Regions from separate parts of the Homo sapiens genome. Here regions 2, 3, 4 and 5 are each reported to be linked to region 1. Evidence: microRNA targets listed by miRTarBase, many of them from high-throughput screens and not tested one by one. Region 1 holds a microRNA gene; each other region holds the end of a gene's coding sequence. Distances are between the middles of the regions.
What was found. The annotated mature microRNA hsa-miR-1257 reads AGUGAAUGAUGGGUUCUGACC and lies in region 1 at 2,185-2,205, shown strand. An mRNA with a match to its seed (bases 2 to 7 or 8) in the 3' UTR can be bound and repressed. Matches are read on the target gene's strand: a 7mer-m8 pairs with bases 2 to 8, a 7mer-A1 pairs with bases 2 to 7 and ends in A, and an 8mer does both.

Region 1 (4,066 bases):
TCTATTGAATACGGTTTTGTTTGCTTTATCAAAGATCAGTTGGTCGTAAGGATTTGGCTTTATTTCTTCATTCTCTATTCTGTTCTATTGGTCTGTTATCTACTTTTGCACCAGTATCATGCTGTTTGGTAACTATAGCCCTGTAGTATAGTTGGAAGTCAGGTAATGTGATGCCTCCAGATTTGTTCTTTTTGCTTAAGATTGCTTTGCCTATTGAGGCTCTTTTTTGGTTCCAAATGAATTTTAGCATTGTTTTTCTAATTCTGTGAAAAAGGAATGTTGGTATTTTGATAGGAATTGCACTGAATCTGTAGATTGCTTTGGGCAGTTTGGTCATTTTCACAATATTGATTCTTCCAATAAGTGAGCATGGGATATATTTCCATTTGTGTCATCTGTGATTTCCTTCAGCAGTGTTTGTAGTTCTCCTTGTAGAGATCTTTCACCCCCTTGGGTACATATATTCCTAGGTATTTTATTTTTTTGCAGCTATTGTAAAAGGGATTGAGTTCTTGATTTGATTCTCAGCTTGGTCATCGTTGGTGTATAGCAGTGCTACATTGATGTTGTGACCGAGGCTTTACTGAATTCATTTATCGAATCTAGGAGTCTTTTGGAGGAGTCTTTAGGGCTTTCTAGGTATAAGATCATACCATTGGCAAACAGGTAGTTTGAATTCCTCTTTTCCAATTTGAATGTCCTTTATTTCTTTCTCTTGCCTGATGGCTCTGGCTAAGAAATTCAGCTAGTTTGCAAAAGCAAAGAAAAGAGGGTATCAGCCTGGGAAAAGGCATACAGGAAGATAGCTCAAAGTGAGCACATTAGATTCAGGGCGAACAGGTGTGTGTGGAGTAGGGTTTGAGGGCTACTGAGTGGAACTCTCAGATCGCAGAGGGAGGACCCATTCTCCCCCACCATCGGGGTGGCTGGGCTGGTCATTGTGGGGAGCTGGCTCGTGGCCAGCGTGGATGTCCTCCCCTCTGTGAGTTGGCTCTCTGCCCCGCGCCACCAGGAGGATGTCCTTTGTTATTTCACACTCAGCCTGCACGTGGGCAGCAGATGCAGGAGACAAGGAGACACGGGACACCTGGGGGTAGGTTTGGGATGGGCAGGTGGAGAATCCGTCTTAGTTGGTGGTAATGGAATGGTTTTAGTAGGTGGAAGTTACAAAGAAGCTTGTTTTGGTTTACCATGGAGTACAAGGGTACCATGGGGAGCCGAGCTGTCCAAATACAGAACTGGCTCTTTGCAGGCTGTCTGGTTGAGTGTGTGTTGGGGATGTTGCTGAGAGGATCTTGTCCTGCTGAGGGCTAGATAGGGCTCTTGAACGGTCCAAGTCAGCTTCCCATGAGGGGTCCCAGGGCCCCACAGCATCCGAGACTGAACCTGACAGGCCCACGGAAGGGCTGGTAGCTAACAGTCAGCACCCCAGCTGCAGTGGGACCCCTTGGCCTCCCTCCTGGGCTCCAGCTCCAGGCCTGGAAGGGCTGAACAGGCGGATGCAGTCCCAGCTGACAGGAAGTCTGAGGAGCAGCTTGTAATGAGCTTCGTTGGCTGACAGGTTTTTTTTTTATTAAAAAAATTTGTTTTTTTTGAGACAGAGTCTCGCTCTGTCACCAGGCTGGAGTGCAGTGGCATGATCTTGACTTGCTGCAAACTCTGCCTCCTGGGTTCAAGCAATTCTCCTGCCTCAGCCTCCTGAGTACCTGGTATTACAGGCATGCACCACCACCTGGCTGATTTTTGTATTTTTAGTAGAGACGGGGTTTCGCCACGATGGCCAGGCCAGTCTCAAACTCCCGACCTCGGGTGATCCTCCCGCCTCAGCCTCCCAAAGTACTGGGATTACAGGCGTGAACCACCGCGCCCAGCTGGCTGACAGTTTTATGTTACCACGAGTGCAGCTCCTTGTCAGGGCAGGTCTGTGATTGTGCTACGGCTCATTAACGAGATTGCAAATCATGCGTCTCTCCTGTGTGTGCCCACTCCCCCTGCAGGCCTCCGTGGCACTCAGTAAGCAGCGGGCTCAGGGAGAGCGTCCTGGATGGTCACCATGCAGGTAAGATGAGGAGGACACTTGGAACCAGGCATTGGATGCGAGCCCCACCCCATGGGAGGGGGACGGGGGGATGCTGGGCACCAGGGGGACCTGTGGGCCAGCTGGCCCTGGGCTTGTGCTTGGGGAGTGAATGATGGGTTCTGACCCCCATGCACCCCTGTGGGCCCCTGGCATCACTGGCCCCATCCTTCACCCCTGCCAACCACGCTTGCCCTGTGCCTCTGAAGCTCCCCCACTAAGGGGGTGGAGTCTAATTCCCTGCCCCTTGACTGTGGGTTCAGCCATGTGACTTGCTTTGACTGAGGGGATGTTCACGGGGCATGTGGTGCTCTGAACTGAGAGCTGCGGTGACCAGGCTGCTGTCCTGTGTTGCTGCCATCAGTGAGGGTGGCTAGCCTGCTGGTCAGGGGGAGGATGAGGGAGTGGGGGGCAGAGCTCAGCTGCCCCAGCGGCCTGGCCTGGACCAGCCAACCAAATGCTGACTCTGTGCTGCTGAGATCGTGTTTGTGTTTGTTACTCAGCAACTAGCTGATACACGGTCCCAGCAACAGACAAGGAAGCCCAGAGGTAGCTAAGTGACACTCCCAAGGCTACACAGCATCTCCTACTGGGAGCTGTGTAAGAAATGACCCCCCCCAAACCCTCCATCCTGGCAGCTGAGGGATGAAGGAGAGACCCAGTCCTCCTGTTGTCCACCTCCTCAATATCTAGGTGGGACCCCTACAATATCTTGATTTTTTAATGTTGACAATTGTGGTCAGCTGAAAAATCCCCCCCCCCCCACCCCCACCGCCCTAAAAGAAAAACAGCCCGTGAAGGTGACCTTATTTGGAAATAGAGTCTCTGCAGATATGATCAAGTTGAAGGTCTCAAGATGAGATCTTTCAGGACTAGTCATAGGCCCGAAATCCAATGGGAAGTGTCCATATGTAAGAGGGAGATGGAGGGAGGTTACACTAAGATGAAGTGAAGATGGAGGTGGAGACGGGAGTGATGTGGGCGTGAGCCAAGGAACTGGAGGCTGGAAGAGGCAGTGAGGGCTCGTCCCCTAATTCCCCGGAGGGAGCTCAGCCTTGCCGACCCCTTGATTTCGGCCCAGGGATACTGATCTCAGACTTTTGGCCTCCAGGACTGGGAGAGCATAAATGTCTTTCTTTTAAGCCACCGAGTTTGTGGGACTTTGTTACCTCAGGAAACAAATACAACAGTATATTCAACACTGTGAAGTGTGCTGTGCCAGGTGGACCGTGCCTGAGGCTGGGCCGGCCTGTGGTCTGCAGCATTGACCCCTTCTGAGCCCCCTGAGGGAGCCCCTGCCTGCCCCAGGCCAGGGTCTCAGTGCATCCGGCTGTCTCTGCCGAGGCCGCAGACCCTCCCTCTTGCACCTCCGTGTGCTTGAGATGAAGAGCCGGCGCTGTGTCCTCAGGCTGCTGAGGGGTAGCCCTTGGGTGGCTGGCCGTGGTCTCAGGGGCAGGAACGGCACAGGGGGCTGAGCAGGGATTTCAGGTGCTGTCCCTGCCCGACCCTCCCAGTTGGCCCAGCTGACTTCCCCTGCCTGGCTCAGCAGCGAGGGGCCCAGCAGCAGGGAGGTCAGTACCTTGGACAGCGTCCTGCAGCCCCCTGTGAGCCGAGGAGGGCTGTGTGTGTGTGCGTGTGTGTGTGTTTGCACGTGTGCATGTGTGTGCATGTGCACATGTGTGAGTGAGTGGGGGGTGCAGGGTCCCGCAGCTGGCTGGGCCATGCCTCTTTTGTCTGCCCTGCGGGTGGGTCTGTCAATACCTGGCTGAGTGGCCAGTGCCGTGGATGAGTGGCTCTGCCCAGCATAGGCCTGTGAACTGACCTCTCTGAATCCTCCTGGGACAGAGGAGTGACAGCGACCCCCATCCTGGGAAATGACCCAAGAGAAGGCCTCTGGGGCTCCCTGGAAAGGGCCTCAAGCTGGATTTTTCAGGTCGTTTGCCAGGCCCTGACCTCTAGGCCTGTAAGCTCCCCACTTGAAGCTGGGAG
Region 2 (4,066 bases), not on the chromosome of region 1:
GTGTGGATGTTGTGGACTTGGCACTTTTCTTAGTGCTTCCCGTCTGCACTGACGCACAGGCCTCAGGAGAGAAGGCCGTGTGGATGGCAATGATTGCAGGGTTTGTGTTCCCTCTTCAGCTGTCTCACTCTGCCAGACCAACAAAAACTGAGACTGAAGTCGCCAGTCCTGAGGAAGCAGGCTTGCCCCCAGTGGAAACACTCATTTGTCTTCAGTGGCGTAACCCCAGCTCAGCTGAGGCAGTCAAGCTTGGAGTTAACTGTCTGGGATCAGGCCCTCTTTGGAATGAACGACCGCTTGCTTGGAGGAACCAGACTTGGTTCAAGTAAGTCTGAGACATTGAGCCCAAACGTTTATACTTTGTGATTATCCTAATGGGTACCGTGCAAAGAAAATGCTTCCACCAGGGCAGTGACTTAACTGGTTTTGAAATTGCCTAGCCTGCCTTAATTGGAAATGCCTAAGTCTAGTTTTTACTCTACAGCTGAGCCATAATACAGCCAAGTATTTTGACAATTTAAATCAGATTTAGATCTGCTAAAGAAACAAAAATTATAGGCCTCCAAACGGGCTAGGTACAGTATTTGCTTTTGTTTCTGGCGTCAATCATAAAAGGATTATTTTCTTAAATGAAAATATCTTCTTAAACAAATGGCAATTCAGAAAGTACTTCATCAAAAGTGGTCAGAACAGCAGTGCTGTCCAGAGCCGCTCGGCAGGGCACCGCCGGCATGGTAGGTGGACAGCCCTCTGCTGTGAGGTTCTGTGCCTGGCACTGCTTCTGGCTGCCAGCAGTGTCCCTGACATGATGACAACCAAAAACACCTGCACACATCTCCAAGGACCTCCAACTGAGAACCAGTGACTGAAGAGAAATAAGCTTCACTGCTCCATTGCTTTTCAAAGATATTTTGTCCAAAGCATACTGTCTTCCTCTAAGAATCCCTTCCCATGGGCAAGCCCAGCCCCCAGTCTGAGACGGCCCCACCCAGCTAGCCATGCTGGTGTGCAACTATCCACTCCCTTGGTGAAGACCCAGCCCACCAAACCAGAGTCCTCGCCTCACTTTCAAACTACAGAACTCCAGGCTGTTAGAGCCTCGCAGAGCAGAGGATGCCTGCGTGAATCCCAGTCTCAACACCAGCTTTGTTGGGGTGGGAGTGGTGGTGGCGGCGTCTGTCATCAGTGGTTGGCCTTTTAATGTGGACTTGAGGTGAAAAACTTCTGGCTGGTCATCATTTTTAAAGGGATGAGAGGGGATGAAGTGGTGCCCTCCCCGACCATGGCTAAATTGTCTTCCTCTCTTACAGAGGGAGACACAGCTGTTGGCGGGGATGCATGCTCACTATCGAAGCTCCAGTGGCAGAAAGTCCTTTCCAGCCCCAATCTATGGACAGACATGACTCTTGTCCTGCACTGACATGAAGGCCTCAAGGTTCCAGGTTGCAGCAGGCGTGAGGCACTGTGCGTCTGCAGAGGGGCTACGAACCAGGTGCAGGGTCCCAGCTGGAGACCCCTTTGACCTTGAGCAGTCTCCATCTGCGGCCCTGTCCCATGGCTTAACCGCCTATTGGTATCTGTGTATATTTACGTTAAACACAATTATGTTACCTAAGCCTCTGGTGGGTTATCTCCTCTTTGAGATGTAGAAAATGGCCAGATTTTAATAAACGTTGTTACCCATGTCCTCCAGTGCTTATCAAATGAGGTAAAAGGCCGGCTGGTGGGCATGGTAACTCCCCCCTGTAATCCCAGCAACTTTGGGAGGCTGCAGTGGATGGCTTGAGCTCAGAAGTGTGAGATCAGCCCAGGCAACATAGATACCCTGTCTACAAAAAAACCAAAAAATTATCCAGGTGTGGTGGTACACACCTGTAGTCCCAGTTACTCAGGAGGCTGAACCGGGAGGATTGAGCCCAGGAGGTTGAGGCTGCAGTAAGCCCCGATCATGCAACTGTGCTCCAGCCTGGGCCAAAGTAAGACCCTGTCTCAAGGCGGGGGGGGGAGTCACAGCTTCGCTGTGAGAAGCACTTTATTTTTTGAGACGGAGTCTCCCCGTCACCAGGCTGGAGTGCAGTGGCACGATCTTGGCTTGCTGCAAGCTCCGCCTCCCGGGTTCTAGCAATTCTCCTGCCCCAGCCTCCCAAGTAGCTGGGATTATAGGTATGCACCACCACACCAGGCTAATTTTCGTATTTTTAGTAAAGATGGGGTTTCACCATGTTGGCCAGGATGGTCTCGATCTCCTGACCTCGTGATCCGACCACCTCGGCCTCCCAAAGTGCTGGGATTACAGGTGTGAGCCACTGTGCCCGGCTATGAGGAGCATTTTAGAGGAGCCTGATGAGTGTTGGAGCAGTCTTTCTCTCCTGTGGAAACCATCTCGAGGAGGTTAGGTGACCCATGGAGCACCATGTCTTGGGTTGGTCAGCTCCAACTTACCAGTGTACCCCCAGGGACACCACGGCCCCTCACGAAACCTGGCCAGAGGACAGCATAGAGCCCAGACGAGTCGGCGGTAGCCCTCCCACCCCACACACAAGCACACACCCGTGCTGCTTCGTGCCTTTGCAAAGCTTTTATTTCATGTCTGCGGCATGGAATCCACCTGCACATGGCATCTTAGCTGTGAAGGAGAAAGCAGTGCACGAGAAGGAATGAGTGGGCGGAACCAACGGCCTCCACAAGCTGCCTTCCAGCAGCCTGCCAAGGCCATGGCAGAGAGAGACTGCAAACAAACAAACACAAGCAAACAGAGTCTCTTCACAGCTGGAGTCTGAAAGCTCATAGTGGCATGTGTGAATCTGACAAAATTAAAAGTGTGCATAGTCCATTACATGCATAAAACACTAATAATAATCCTGTTTACACGTGACTGCAGCAGGCAGGTCCAGCTCCACCACTGCCCTCCTGCCACATCACATCAAGTGCCATGGTTTAGAGGGTTTTTCATATGTAATTCTTTTATTCTGTAAAAGGTAACAAAATATACAGAACAAAACTTTCCCTTTTTAAAACTAATGTTACAAATCTGTATTATCACTTGTATATAAATAGTATATAGCTGATCATTAATAAGGTGTATAAGTACAATGTATTCTAAAACTGTTAAGCAAAAAAAAAAAAAACAAAAAAAAAAATCCAAGTGTCCTCCTCCACCACTCACGCTGGTGATCACTGTGCTCTCTGCCAGCTGCGTGGAGTGACGGGAGGAGGGAATCACTGTGTGTGCGAGAGTGCTTCAGACTCAATTTCCAAAATAATTTTCACCCCTCTAAGCATGTAAATATACAAAGATGGATCCTTCATAGAAATTAAAAAATCAATTTGAGCTCATTTCGAATACAGAACAAGTATGGCACAGATGGAAGTCCTGCCACGTTTCCTTTAATGATGCTGACTCTTGTATCACACAGGCCAGCATGAAGTTTCTTACTCAGACTTTACAGGCATTTTCCGTAATTCAATCAGTCCTGCTCCCAGCACAACACAGGAGGTGATTCGAGAATAATCGCGAGAATCAGGCCTGCTTGGCACTATTACAACTGGGGAAAACAAACCAGGGCGCCTCCCTGGTTCCCAGCCCAGAATGTTTCTGTTGGGTAACTGCTTTCTAAAGGAACTGGGATCTGAGGGAGTTCCTAGACTTGGAGCACTAAAGACACAAGCGTGGCGGGGCTGGCAGCGCCCGCTATGAGCACCCCTCTGCCCTTGGTCCTGGCCTGGCTGTTACAGGGCCTCGAACTCGTCGATGCGCTGCTTGGTGTTGCCCTGCCGGATCTGCCGCAGCGTCTTGTACTTGTCCCGGCCTTGCCTCATGTTCTCGTTGTGGATGATGTCATTGTGGGTCCTCTTATTCTCATCTCGGGCCTGGGACAGCTCGCTGCTCAGCGTCTGTAACATTAAGCAGCATTGGTCTAGTCCCTTCCTCCCCATATGGCCCGGCCCGTCCCCTAGGAAAACAGGAAGGGCAAGAGGGGTGCTGGGTGGGGCTGGCTCACATCACTGCCCTCCCCAAGCCTGTCTGCTCCAAAAGCGAGGCAGGCTCCCTGGAGACAGAGCCCCT
Region 3 (4,066 bases), not on the chromosome of region 1:
AACCGCAAAGACGCACTTGTTCTACACCAGAGGATTCACACTGGAGAAAGGCCTTACGAGTGCAGCAAATGTGGTAAAACCTTCAGTGTTCTGTCTACCCTCATTCGGCACCGGAAAGTGCACATTGGAGAAAGGCCCTATGAGTGTACAGAATGTGGGAAGTTCTTTAAATACAATAATAGCTTCATTCTTCACCAGAGAGTTCACACTGGAGAAAGGCCTTTTGAATGCAAGCAATGTGGGAAAGGCTACGTGACCCGTTCAGGCCTCTATCAGCACTGGAAAGTCCACACTGGGGAACGGCCCTATGAATGTAGCCTGTGTGGGAAAACCTTCACTACCAGATCCTACCGCAATCGGCACCAGCAGTTCCACACTGAAGAGAGGTCTTATGAATGTACAGAGTGTGGGAAGGCCTTCAAACATAGTTCCACCCTCCTTCAGCACAAGAAAGTCCATACTCCAGAAAGGCGTCAGGAGGACAGGGCACATGGGAAGGTCGTTAGCTGCTAGCACCGTGTTCATCAGGAAAGGTCTTATTCCAGAAAGGAGGTTAAGGAGAGTGGCCGTGAGAGTGCCATCCGAAAGAAGCTAAACCTTGCACATCCCAACACCCACCCCAGGGAGAGTTCCCGTGTGTGCCTGGTGTGTGGGACGCTTTCGGGAGCCACATTGCACTCTGACTTGCCTGGGGCTGTTGGCAGTGTCACATCACTGAGTTTATCCACCGCCATCCACCTCTATCCACCCCATAAGGTCCCTACAGCAAGTGGGACAGCAGACCTTGTGCTCCTTGCTCTAAACAGTAGAGAATCGTTAATAGTGGAGCCCAAAACAGGCCTCATTCCCTACCCTTGACTGGTTTAGCTGTGGACATGACCCACCTCTGGCCGGAGGAGCTGAGCTGGTATCTGCTGGGGGCTTCCTGGGAAGGTTTACCATTTTCATGGAAATGGTTGACATTACACATGGTATTTGTCATGCCCTAGCATGGACTGTCTCATACTGCTCTGGACTATGTGGTAATAAAGGCTTTATTGTTTAAGCCGCTTAAAATTTTTTTTTTATTTTTTTTTTGAGATGGTCTTATTCTGTTGCCCAGGCTGGAATGCAGTGGTGCCATCATAGCTCACCACAGCCTTGAACTGCTGGTCTCAAGGGATCTTCCTGCTTCAGCCTCCTGAGTAGCTGGCACTACAGGTGTGCGCCATCACACCTGGCTAATTTTTTTTTTTCATTTGTGGACAGGGTCTTGCTATATTGCCCAAGCTGGTCTCGAACTCTGAGCCTCAAGCTATCCTCCTGCCTTGGCCTCCCAAAGTGCTGGGAGCCACTGTGCCTGGCCTAGTTTTTTTAGAGACAGGGTCTCACAGTCTTGCCCAGGCTGGAGTGCAGTAGTGTGAAGCTAGCTCATTGCAGACTTGAACTACTGGACTCAAGTGATCCTCCTGCTTCAGCGTATTGAATAGCTAGGATTGTACTTGTGTGGCACCACATCTGACTAATTTTAAAAATTTGTATAGAGACAGGATCTTGCTACATTGCCCAGGCTGGTCATGAACTCTTTGCCTCAAGCAGTCCTCTTGCCTCAGCCTTCCAAAGTGCTGGTATTATAGTTGTGAGCCACTGTGCCCTGCCAAGTCTCTTTTAATATTGAGGTTCTGATCCCTGTGTGTGGAGAGATTGAGAATAGAATCCGGCACTATCACCGTAAGTTGAGGGAATGGCTTTTGTGGAGGTGGTCTCTTGAGTTTTTTCTGCCTCAGTGGGGATGGCAGGATGACAGAAAATACCTCTAGTCAAGGTTGGCCTAATTTGTATTGGCCCCTGAGTCCTCCAGGGAAAGACTTGTAGCCTGGATGTCAGGCTTTTTTGTGGGTCCAGAGCTCACCTTGCGGAAGGGAATAGTTGGTGAGAGATCTTCTATATGTTTATGGACATAAAAAGTTGGGTTCCTTGTTCCCAGGGAATGTTCCAGAACTTCCAGCATTGGTCAGAAGGAGCTGTTTCCAGATTCAGCTCAAAAGTCATATTCTCCAAAATCTGGAACATGGAGGTAAGTTATAGACTGACTCTAAGACCTATAGGGGCCTGTTGGGTAGAGTAATTTGAGTAGAGTAAGTGGGCATAGAAATATTGAGTGAAGTAGTATGGAGTGAAGTGTCTGATAAACAAGAGGATTTCAGCCAGTTCTAAAGAGGCATCCACAAATGTTCCAGCAACTGAGGTTTCCTGGGGTGAGGGCACCAGAACTTCTCAGCAATTGCAGACCTGTTATTTGTGTCAAGGTCACTGTCAGCAAATAATCTACAGACTTTCTGGATTCTCATATCCTCTCTGGGCTGTTCACCTCTCATGGCCATTATCCTGAGACTGAAAGATTCTATAGTCCTGGGATGTGCCTTTTGTGACCCAGCCAGTACTCCTGGTGTCTGGATGCTGTGGCCTTTGCAGTTGTCAAGTTTTTGCTGTCATGGTGTCAGGGCTTTCCCTCTGGGGCTCAAGAGAGACACGTAGGGTAACCAAAGTATGGATCCAGATCTTGCGGTTTATGGGACCTTTTCAGAGTCTTGCTGTGTCACGCAGCCTGGAGTGTAGTGGTATGATCACGGCTCACTGCACCCTTGACTCCAGGGATTCAAGTGATCCTTCTACCTCAGCCTCCTGAGTAGCAGCGACTACAGTTACACACCACCACACTCAGCTAATTAAAGAAAAAATCGTTTTAGGCTGGGCGTGGTGGTCGATGCATGTAATCCTAGCACTTTGGGAGGCCAAGGTGGGCAGATCACTTTAGGTCAGGAGTTTGAAACCAGCCTGGCCAACATGGTGAAACTCCACCTCTACTAAAAATACAAAAAAATTGGCTGGGTGCAGTGGCTCACGCCTGTAATCCCAGCACTTTGGGAGGCCGAGGCAGGTGGATCATGAGGTCAGGAGATCGAGACCATTCTGGCTAACATGGTGAAACCCCGTCTCTACTAAAAATACAAAAAAATTAGCCCGGCATGGTGACGGGCGCCTGTAGTCCCAGCTACTTGGGAGGCTGAGGCAGGAGAATTGCTTGAACTGGGGAGGCAGAGGTTGCAGTGAGCCAAGATCTCACCACTATTCTCCAGCCTGGGTGACAAAGCAAGACTCTGTCTCAAAAAAAAAAAAAAATTTGGGAGTAGGGGGTCAGGATTGGCGGCTCATGCCTGTAATGCCAGCACTCTGGGATACTGAGGTGGGAGGATCGCTTGAGCCGAGAAGTTCATAGACCAGCCTGGGCAACATGGCAAGACCCCATCTCTTTAAATTTTTTTTTTTTTTAAGAGACAAGGTTTTGCCATGTGCCCAGGCTGATCTTGAACTCTTGGGCTCAAGTGATCTTCCAGCCTCAGACTCCCAATGTGCTGGGGTTGGTGTGACACTGTTCCTGGCTTATACCCACTTTTATTTTATTTTATTTTTTTTGAGATGGAGTCACTCTGTTGTCCAGGCTGGAGTGCAGTGGTGTGATCTCAGCACACTGCAACCTCCGCCTCCCAGGGTCAAGTGATTCTCATACCTCAGTCTCCCGAGTAGCTGGGATTATAGGCATCGGCCAGCATGCCCGGCTAATTTGTATTTTTAGTAGAGACGGGGTTTCACCATGCTGGCCAGGCTGGTCTCGAACTCCTGACCTTGTGATCTGCCCACCTCAGCCTTTCAAAGTGCTGGGATTACCGGCGTGAGCCACCGCACCCAGCCTATATACCCACTTTTAAAGACATACGAGATGCTAAATGTTATTCAGAATGGGCTAGAAAATGGGTGGTAACTTCCAGCTGTTGCCATGCTAAGGGGCAGTAACTTCCGAGTGTTGCCAAGGCAGTGGCAAACTGCCATGGCAATGGCGGGCCTGTCTTACGGGGAAGTGCTTTCAGCGCCTTTTCCTGATTTCAGCGTCTTCAACCTGCTCTGGAGTAGAGTCCCATCTGCCTCCTACCTCAGCTTCACAAAAATCCCTTGAAGGAGGAATTATCTTCATTTTCCATTGCTCCCCCACTTCCCCAGACTGGCTGCTGGATAGGATATTGATCAC
Region 4 (4,066 bases), not on the chromosome of region 1:
CATTACTGGAGTAAACCACACCATTAGACAGAATGAAAGACTCCACCGCAGAGAGAGAGACTGATTTTTATAACAACTGAATTTATTATAGCATAAACTAAATACAAAGCTCTGAATAAATAATCGTTTTTTTCAGTCATCACATCTGCAGGTGTGTATGTGAACATTTCCATAAGCACATAAGGATACAGATGTCACAGACATATTTAGTGAGGGAAGCCCAGAGTCACGGTTCTCTGTGGGTAAGAGCTAGATGCCTTGAGATGAACATACAGGGCACCGTCTCAAATGATTTGGACTATGTGACTGTGTTCGTTTCTCCTTCAGACTCTGCTCAAGAAAGTGTATTGATAACAGGTTGCTCCGCCCTCAAGTTTAGGGCACTCTCCCACGCTCTTTCATGCAAAGTTTTTTAACACCTCTCTTTAAGAAAATTCACAAATCAGAAGTATTACCCCAGCTTCAATCTGACAATCAGGACCCCTACTCTGCCCCTCTTTCCTAGGATCTTATCTCCATTAGGGGTCCCCTTTCAAGGTACAGGGCAATTGAGTCTATATGTCCACACAATCGGATCTGACAAGGCTGGGAGCCCTCCCTCCAGAGCCCATCCTCCCATGAGTGTCTGTCTGGTATTCTGTGTGGGTAGTAGTAGAAAATAGTTCACATCTGGTGGCTCATGTCTGTAATCCCGGCACTTTGGGAGGCCGAGGCGGGCGGATCACGAGGTCAGGAGATTGAAACCACCCTGGCTAACATGATGAAACCCCATCTCTACTAAAAATACAAAAAATTAGCCGGGCATGGTGGCAGACCTGTAGTCCCAGCTACTTGGGAGGCTGAGGCAGGAGAATGGTGTGAATCCGGGAGGCGGAGCTGGCAGTGAGCCGAGATTGTGCCACTGCACTCTAGCCTGGGCAACAGAGTGAGACTCCATCTCAAAAAAAAAAAAAAAAAAAAAAGGTTCACATCACAGCATAAGACTGAGACACTGGGTGTATCAAGCTTGAAAGAGATCTTGCAGGTAATTGAGTTTCATCTGATACTTGACTTCCTTCTCTACTTGGCCCTTGAATAGCCACTTGTTCCTCCAATGTCCTAGAGTACATTCCACTGCTATCAGTGCTGGCTGTTAGGACAGTGGTTAGGGCAGATGGCCTGAAGCCATCCCCACTGTGATCTTTACCCATTTGTCCTGATTTTGCCTTCTCATGCCACCTGGCACAAGTAGGATCCTTCTTTCTCAGGAAAACCCTTCACAGTCCCCTGACTGTTTTCTTTCCAGGCTGGGCACTCCCTGTTCCTTCAATTACTGCTTCTAAGATGTAGTTAATCCCAGGAATACAGTCTTCAAAATGAGTCTCTTTTCCCAAAGATTTTATGGCTGCTTGACTAGTGGAGGACTAGATTCTTTTCTTCCTGTTCCCTGCCAGCCTTTGCTAGTGATAGAATCACTTAGGATCAAGGCAAGAGCAACTCAAAGTCTCAGAAAGACAGACAATCATTTTTTTGTTTTGTTTTGTTTTGTTTTTAATACACCTCTAGCCCAGGCCTGGCAGGATGCCTGGCATTCATTTGAACAGAGGGCCTGGTATTAGCAAAGGGTTGCCCATTCTTTGCTTGACTGTGAGATCACACTAAGCAACCTGCCCTGCTGGAACTCTGGAATTTGGAAGTATTTGGCAGCAATATAAGGTTTGCTCAGAAGATCTGTATTTGAGGCCTAGATCTGCTCTTGCCATTACTGAATCTCAGCTTTCTCATCTGTATGGTGGAGATGATAAGCCCTTCCTTGTTCAGTCATGGGACAATTGGTACCATTCAGGTGAGTTAGTGGAGGTGAATGCACTTAGCAAAGGGCACATTTAAGTATGAACTGTGCAGGCTGATCTTGCTCATGACTAGGTCACAGACCATCTCTAGCTTGCCCCTGCCTACAACCCTCTACTTTTGGAAAATGAGAAACACTTTTAGAGAAGGACATTCAGAACTGCCATATCATTGCTGAGGCTGGCTTTGCAAAAGGAAACATTTCTTTCTGTACCAAAAAAGACAGTGATTCTGCAGTCTTGAAACACTAAAATATCTTCACGCCCTATTTTAAAACCAGAAGTAACAGGGTACCCTCATGGCTGGGAGACACCATGTTCCTAGAATCAGCTGCAATCATAGAGCCATCAGCCATGCTCAAGAGCTCAGTTAGGGGGAAGGAATGCTTGCAAATGCTATTGATAAGTTCCAAAGCCAGCCTGGGCCAGGACACTTATCCCCTGATCAGAACATTCACCTAGGATTTGATGCTCATAATACAAATTTTGCTTTTGCCTTAAAATATTATATGTAGGTGTGCTCCTAGAGTTCAGTGTTGTCTCCTGAGGTAACAGAAACCTGAGTCTTCCTTGTGCTGAACAAATCAAATATAACCAAATTGTAATAGTGACAAAATAAGGACAATTTTAGTTTTCTGGAAACTCAAGCCACAAACTTTAAAAAAAAAATGTACTAGTTGTGTAAGAACTCCCATCAATAGTGCCATATAATGCTGTAGCATGAGACTAATGTTTCTCAAAAATAATAAAGCAGAGGAGTGAAAATTTCTGGAGTTGGCCATGTGACATGAGAGATTCCTAAAACATAGGATAAGTTACTGGGGTTAGGAAAAGTGGGCTGTAGTGGACAGCACTCGTGCTTTCTGATCTGTTATTTTCCTCTCCTTCCCAGGACTACGTTCCAGACCAACTCTATCATTTGTGGGGCCTGGTACAAAATGAAAATATGGGGACCCCTGTTCAAAAATTAAGAATTTTAAGATGGAAACAGCAGAGTGTTAAAGCCAAGTGTGGGGACCTTCTAAGCATGGGGCCCTGTGTAGTGACAGCTCATAAGCCCATGAAGCATCCCTAAACACAGGAGACTGCACTTTCCAGCTCCCTGGCCAAATCCTTGACTAATGAGATATGAGTAGGGAAAGCAATGTGTGCCACTTTTGGGGTGAGGCAGTGAAGAGCCCACACGTGATCTCCAGTCTATTCCTTCCCCCATCACAGTCAACACACAGTCCTTGCATCGAGCTGATGGAGCCATCAGGTTGAAGCAGTCACTGCTGTAAGAATGGCAGTTCCAGAGTGTCACCTGGATCACGAAAGAAGCACTTGTGTGTTAAGGCACTGATATCTGAGAGTTGTTTTTTATTGCAGCATAGGCTAAGCTTATCCTTAACAATATGTTGGGTAAGGCCAGAAACAGAAGAAAAAGCCTCAAATCTGAAAAGTACTACAGAGAAAAGGAACCCAGACAGTAAAGATTGGTGTAATGTTTCCCACGCATTAGTTTTTCCATCGATGAAGTAAAAATTCAAAAATTACAACTCCGTGAGTATACACAGTACTACTTCCCCTCAACTCATTTTTATAAAAAGGAAAGTATTGTCCTGTCCTAAGAGGAAAGATCACATATTTTTCCCCTTTAGCCTGCTTGTCTCTTGGCCCATAGAAATTCTTGGCCCATTCTTGCCTTCACTGAATGCCTCTAATACCTTCAGAAGCCAAGAGGAAAGCACTCTTCTGGGTCAATGTTCTTCTCTGTAGACAGTATTTTATCAAACAGACTTTAGTTTGTCACCATGATTTGATAGGTAGCCCCAAAACTCCAGCTGATGTTACAAGAGTCTCATTTCTTAAAATCAATGAAACTGGTCCCTTTTGTCATTGTTTCTCTGTAATATCAACTTGGATATCACATGTCCTTCAGAGTTGTTCTTCATTGCTCTCAAATACTGGATTGCTGTAAGACACTCCTCTGCCACACTCCGGCATGTCAGAGTGGGAGGTTTGGTTTAGCGGGGGCCAACTAGGGTCATTTGCCAAGTCCCTCTGCCATATCCGATACTGGCTTTTTGACTGATAGCCGAAACATCTTTTAATCATCATCCACAGGGCTCGATTTTCAATAACAGCCTCCTGCAAAATAAAATAATTACTTTTTACAAGCAAGGGTTGAGTGTTTTGAGGCTACAGCCCTCCACAGGCCATCATAAGTCACTACTGCAATGGTTGCTTAGATCCAG
Region 5 (4,066 bases), 180 kb from region 1:
ACTGTGGAGACAGTCCTGGTTGGAAACGTGGCAGGGAGCACCTGCAGTGCCGGAGCTGGGCTCCAGAGCTGACGGGGCCGCCCCTTCCCTGTAGTGGCCCTGGTGAGTCTGTCCCTCCTTCCCTGGGCCGCTCTGAGGACGAGGCCTGGCCAGAAGCCTGGGAGTCAGTGCCTGCTACAATCAGCATTTCCTCTGTGGTTTAGCTCCAGGCGGACGACGTGGGCCGAAGAGAGGAAGCTCAACACAGAGACCTTTGGGGTGTCAGGGAGGTTTCTTCGTGGCCGCAGTTCTCGGGGCGGATTCCGAGGAGGCAGGGGCAATGGGACCACCCGTCGCAACCCCACTTCCCACAGGGCCGGGACTGGCAGGGTGTGAGGGTGCAGCCAAAGGTGAGTGGATGAACCTTCTGGACGCTTTGGTGGGAGGGTGTAGGGTCAGGCACACCTGGAGAGCTTAGGAAGGTGGGGAGCAGGCTCGGTTTCCCAGGAAGAAGAGAGGCCCAGAGGTGTCAAAGCCAAACCGAGGGCCTCGACCCTATGAGTCACCCGGGAGGCTCTTGGCCAACTTCAACCTGCATCTGTGGGGGTAGGATCCAGGCCCCAGCATCCTCCAAGTGAGATTGCAGGTATGGGAGGTGAGGTGGTGCGGGAGTCGCGTGGGCTGGGGGCTCACCACCCAGGTGAAGCCAGCAAGTGAGACCTTGCTCCAAAGCCAGTGTCTTGGCCCAACCCGGCCCTAAGTGAATCAGAGGCTTCATTTTTAACCAGGTCCCAGTGGATTTGTGGGCACCTTAGGGTTTGGGCGGAGCGTCCCACATGGGGTGCCTGGTGCCAACCCCACCCAGCGCCTCGGGACAGCCAGGTGGGCCCTGGAAAGACTAGCCCTCCTGCCACTAGCTGCGTCCCTGTCCCCAGTGTATTGTACAAGTAGGATTCTCAGAGTGGGTTGTGAGAAGAATGGGGGTAGCCAGTCTGACTCTGGGGGCAGGAGGGAGGCTGAGTGGCTCCTGCTCGCCAGCAGGGGCAACAGTGCTAGCTTATCCCAGCAGATGCTTGACTTCCTGTCATCTCTTGCAGGCTCCTACTGAAGTGGCGCATAACTGACGCTGTGTGTGTCAGGACGCGAGGAAAACGCTGCACTTACAGGGAGAGGTGGTCACTTTGTTTACGGAGTTTGGAAGAGACCCATACTGCTACTTGTGTTTTGGACTTAACTGAACTTGGACATGGTCTGAGTTAGAACCACTTGTTTTGGGGAAGTATTCATGGGTAACCTCTTTGAGGTCTCTTTATCTGTGTTTCCTTTTTAGTTGCGCATAGCCTAATTCTAAGGTTTTGGTATTTTGCAAAAAGGTTTCTATAGTGAAAGCTGAATCCTTACTTTGTGACTTTTTTTTTTTTTTTTAATGACAAGCTTTGACTTTTAAAAGTGGAACCAAATCTGTTGGCAGAGGTGGCAGCCAAGTACATCTCTGTAACCCAGCTGGCCCCTGGTGCTGTTGGCCTGGCACCCCACTGCCAAGGGTGGGGTCTCAGGAGTCAGGCAGGGCCAGCACAGGGTGGCGTGGGGGGCAGGGGTGGGTGGGTGGAGGGCACGGAAGGGGTTTTCCCATGGATCATGTTGTATAAGTGAACCAGACCACCCTGATGGCATCCACAGTGATGTCAAGGTTGGGGCTGGCCAGGGGTGGGTGGACTAGAAGCATTTGGGAGTAGTGGCCAGGGGCCCTGGACGCTAGCCACGGAGCTGCTGCACAGAGCCTGGTGTCCACAAGCTTCCAGGTTGGGGTTGGAGCCTGGGATGAGCCCCGGCAGCGCCTTGGCCCTTCTGTGGTCCCTGCCAGCCTCTGACCTGGGCCGGTCAGTCATTGCTGGACTCTGGCCACACACTGGCGTTCTCATCCACTTGGAAACAAGCCAGTCTTTTCTGCAAGGTCAGTTGACCAAGAGCATATTTCCCCTCTGTTGTACATCGTTGTTTTGTGTTTGTGTTGTAACAGTGGGTGGAGGGAGGGTGGGGTCTACATTTGTTGCATGAGTCGATGGGTCAGAACTTTAGTATACGCATGCGTCCTCTGAGTGACAGGGCATTTTGTCGAAAATAAGCACCTTGGTAACTAAACCCCTCTAATAGCTATAAAGGCTTTAGTTCTGTATTGATTAAGTTACTGTAAAAGCTTGGGTTTATTTTTGTAGGACTTAATGGCTAAGAATTAGAACATAGCAAGGGGGCTCCTCTGTTGGAGTAATGTAAATTGTAATTATAAATAAACATGCAAACCTTTAAAATTTTCTTTTCTGATGCTCTAAGAATCCTGTTGACTCTTCTGCCCAAGTCACCTCTGCATCATGTCCAGGTCTGGAGCACACACTTAGGCTGGTGGAATTTGGGGAGACTTGGGCCCCATCAGGTGATGGAACGAGGTGGCTGACCCAATTGGTCGGGTGAAGTGCGGCCAGCAGACCCGGGTTCTCCCTGTGGGCCACCCTTCTGGGATGAATGGCTCTGCTCTCAGAAACTGGATACAAAGTTCTTTTAAAAACCCAGCTCACAGATAACACCTGTATCATAAGCAGTGGCCCCTTTGCCACCTTCCTGCTGCCTCCAAGCTCCCCAGCTCAGGAGCGTTCAGGTTCTCAGGCACCGTAGAGCATGTTACACAGCCATGAGCAAGCTGCACCCTGGACCCACGCAGAAAAACAAAGACATGGCTGGTTCTAGGCTCAGAGCATCCCATTTTAGTCTAATGGGTTTCCAGGTGACCTTAAAAGTGGCCCTCAGAGAGGACGAGGAGACACACCAGCTGCATGAGTTCTCCTTTCATTACCTGCCTGTGGCCATCAGGCTCCACAGCAGAACTGCCAGTGGGGGGCCCTCCCATTTCTTGGGTGGGGGTAATGGGTATCCTTGACCAGCAGAAAAATAAATGTTACGTGTGCCAGATACTGGTGGCCACAGTCCTCACCCAGCTAGAGAACTTGGTGAAACAGGTATTGCCTCCCAGAGCATCGCAAGGTAGTCAGGTTATCGTGTGCCAGCTGACCTTGCTGTTAAAATGTTCATTGTTTTGACAACTGTACATTTTACGCTGAGCTCAAAATGTATCTGGGCCCCTTTACTCCTTTTTAGAAGATACATGCCCAAAACCAAGGACCAGAGGACCCAAAAGCCTTAAACTGTGGGACTAGAAGTCAAAACACAGGAAAGGGCAGAGAATAGCCAGAACCAGTCTTCAACATAGGGGGCAGACGTCAAGATGTGGTCTATGAAAGTCAGACATGCAAAGCTGCTTTGAACAAAGCTGCTGCTCTACAGAATGAACCCAGGGCTACTTGTGTTTGTGTCCTTGACATTATACATTCATTAGGGGACTAGAATGAAGGTCTAAAAGCAAACGGAAGTCATTCTGTGTCTACAACAGAGAAACAGGTCTGCTGAAGGCCAGGTTTCTCTGCAGGACCCAGGGCAGCAGCTCTGACTTCCCAAGGGAGGAACCTGTGTCTCACACTGGCTTACTGTCTTAGCCACAAGGAACAGAAAGGAAAGCTCAATTACGGTGGCTCAGGGTTGAAAAAGAAGGGTGAGAGATGAGAGGACTGCTGTGATTGCACCTAAAGATACACATTCTCTTAAAAAAAAAAACAGGTTAAAAATACGGAAGTTTATTGTAGGACACTCAGTGTGAATAAATGGAATGGAAAGGCCTACACATCGAGACTCATCCATGATTGATATGAATTTAAAAATTACAAGCAAAGACATTTTATTCATCATGATGCTTTCTTTTGTTTCTTCTTTTCGTTTTCTTCTTTTTCTTTTTCAATTTCAGCAACATACTTCTCAATTTCTTCAGGATTTAAAATCTATAGAAAAAAACTTCATGGTTACCTAAGCCACACAAGGTGCCAAGGAACCAGCGCCCTCTTCTGGGGAGGGCGGCCAGGCTTTGGCACTGCTGCTCATACAGCCTCTTTGGAGAGGAACCTCAAGAAAAACAAGAGGATGCTGGCCTGACCTAGACAAGTATTAAGCAGCAGTAGCAGCAGCAGCAGATCTGACTGGCAGC

Region 2: miRTarBase lists EZR as a target of hsa-miR-1257. Seed matches in the 3' UTR shown: 7mer-A1 at 2,798-2,804.
Region 3: miRTarBase lists ZNF584 as a target of hsa-miR-1257. The part of its 3' UTR that is shown has no 7-base or 8-base seed match.
Region 4: the mRNA of ATP13A4 is a reported target of hsa-miR-1257. Seed matches in the 3' UTR shown: 7mer-m8 at 1,840-1,846 and 7mer-A1 at 857-863.
Region 5: the mRNA of PSMA7 is a reported target of hsa-miR-1257. Seed matches in the 3' UTR shown: 7mer-A1 at 3,681-3,687.

What each region holds. Positions count from the first base shown.
Region 1 is chr20:61,951,760-61,955,825 of GRCh38, reverse strand. MIR1257 (microRNA 1257) reads left to right here and starts at 2,164; the gene lies at 2,164-2,280. RefSeq lists enhancers at 1,656-2,155, 2,966-3,538 and a silencer at 3,526-3,726.
Region 2 is chr6:158,763,185-158,767,250 of GRCh38, forward strand. It overlaps EZR (ezrin), which reads right to left. Exons shown (of 14, transcript NM_001111077.2): 14 at 2,564-3,894. The coding sequence ends at 3,730. It overlaps SYTL3 (synaptotagmin like 3), which reads left to right. Exons shown (of 18, transcript NM_001242394.2): 17 at 120-325; 18 at 1,311-1,687. The coding sequence ends at 1,420. It overlaps MIR3918 (microRNA 3918), which reads right to left and starts at 1,569; the gene lies at 1,477-1,569.
Region 3 is chr19:58,417,272-58,421,337 of GRCh38, forward strand. ZNF584 (zinc finger protein 584) reads left to right here. Exons shown (of 4, transcript NM_173548.3): 4 at 1-1,056. The coding sequence ends at 513. It also overlaps a transcript of ZNF324B not described here. Among named protein-coding and RNA genes, the nearest start is that of ZNF584, 11 kb to the left of the region's middle.
Region 4 is chr3:193,398,906-193,402,971 of GRCh38, forward strand. It overlaps ATP13A4 (ATPase 13A4), which reads right to left. Exons shown (of 30, transcript NM_032279.4): 30 at 62-3,959. The coding sequence ends at 3,747. Among named protein-coding and RNA genes, the nearest start is that of ATP13A5, 22 kb to the left of the region's middle.
Region 5 is chr20:62,133,087-62,137,152 of GRCh38, forward strand. It overlaps PSMA7 (proteasome 20S subunit alpha 7), which reads right to left. Exons shown (of 7, transcript NM_002792.4): 7 at 3,647-3,863. The coding sequence ends at 3,771. It overlaps LSM14B (LSM family member 14B), which reads left to right. Exons shown (of 9, transcript NM_144703.3): 8 at 204-389; 9 at 1,077-2,288. The coding sequence ends at 375. Among named protein-coding and RNA genes, the nearest start is that of PSMA7, 8.3 kb to the right of the region's middle. RefSeq lists an enhancer at 757-1,256.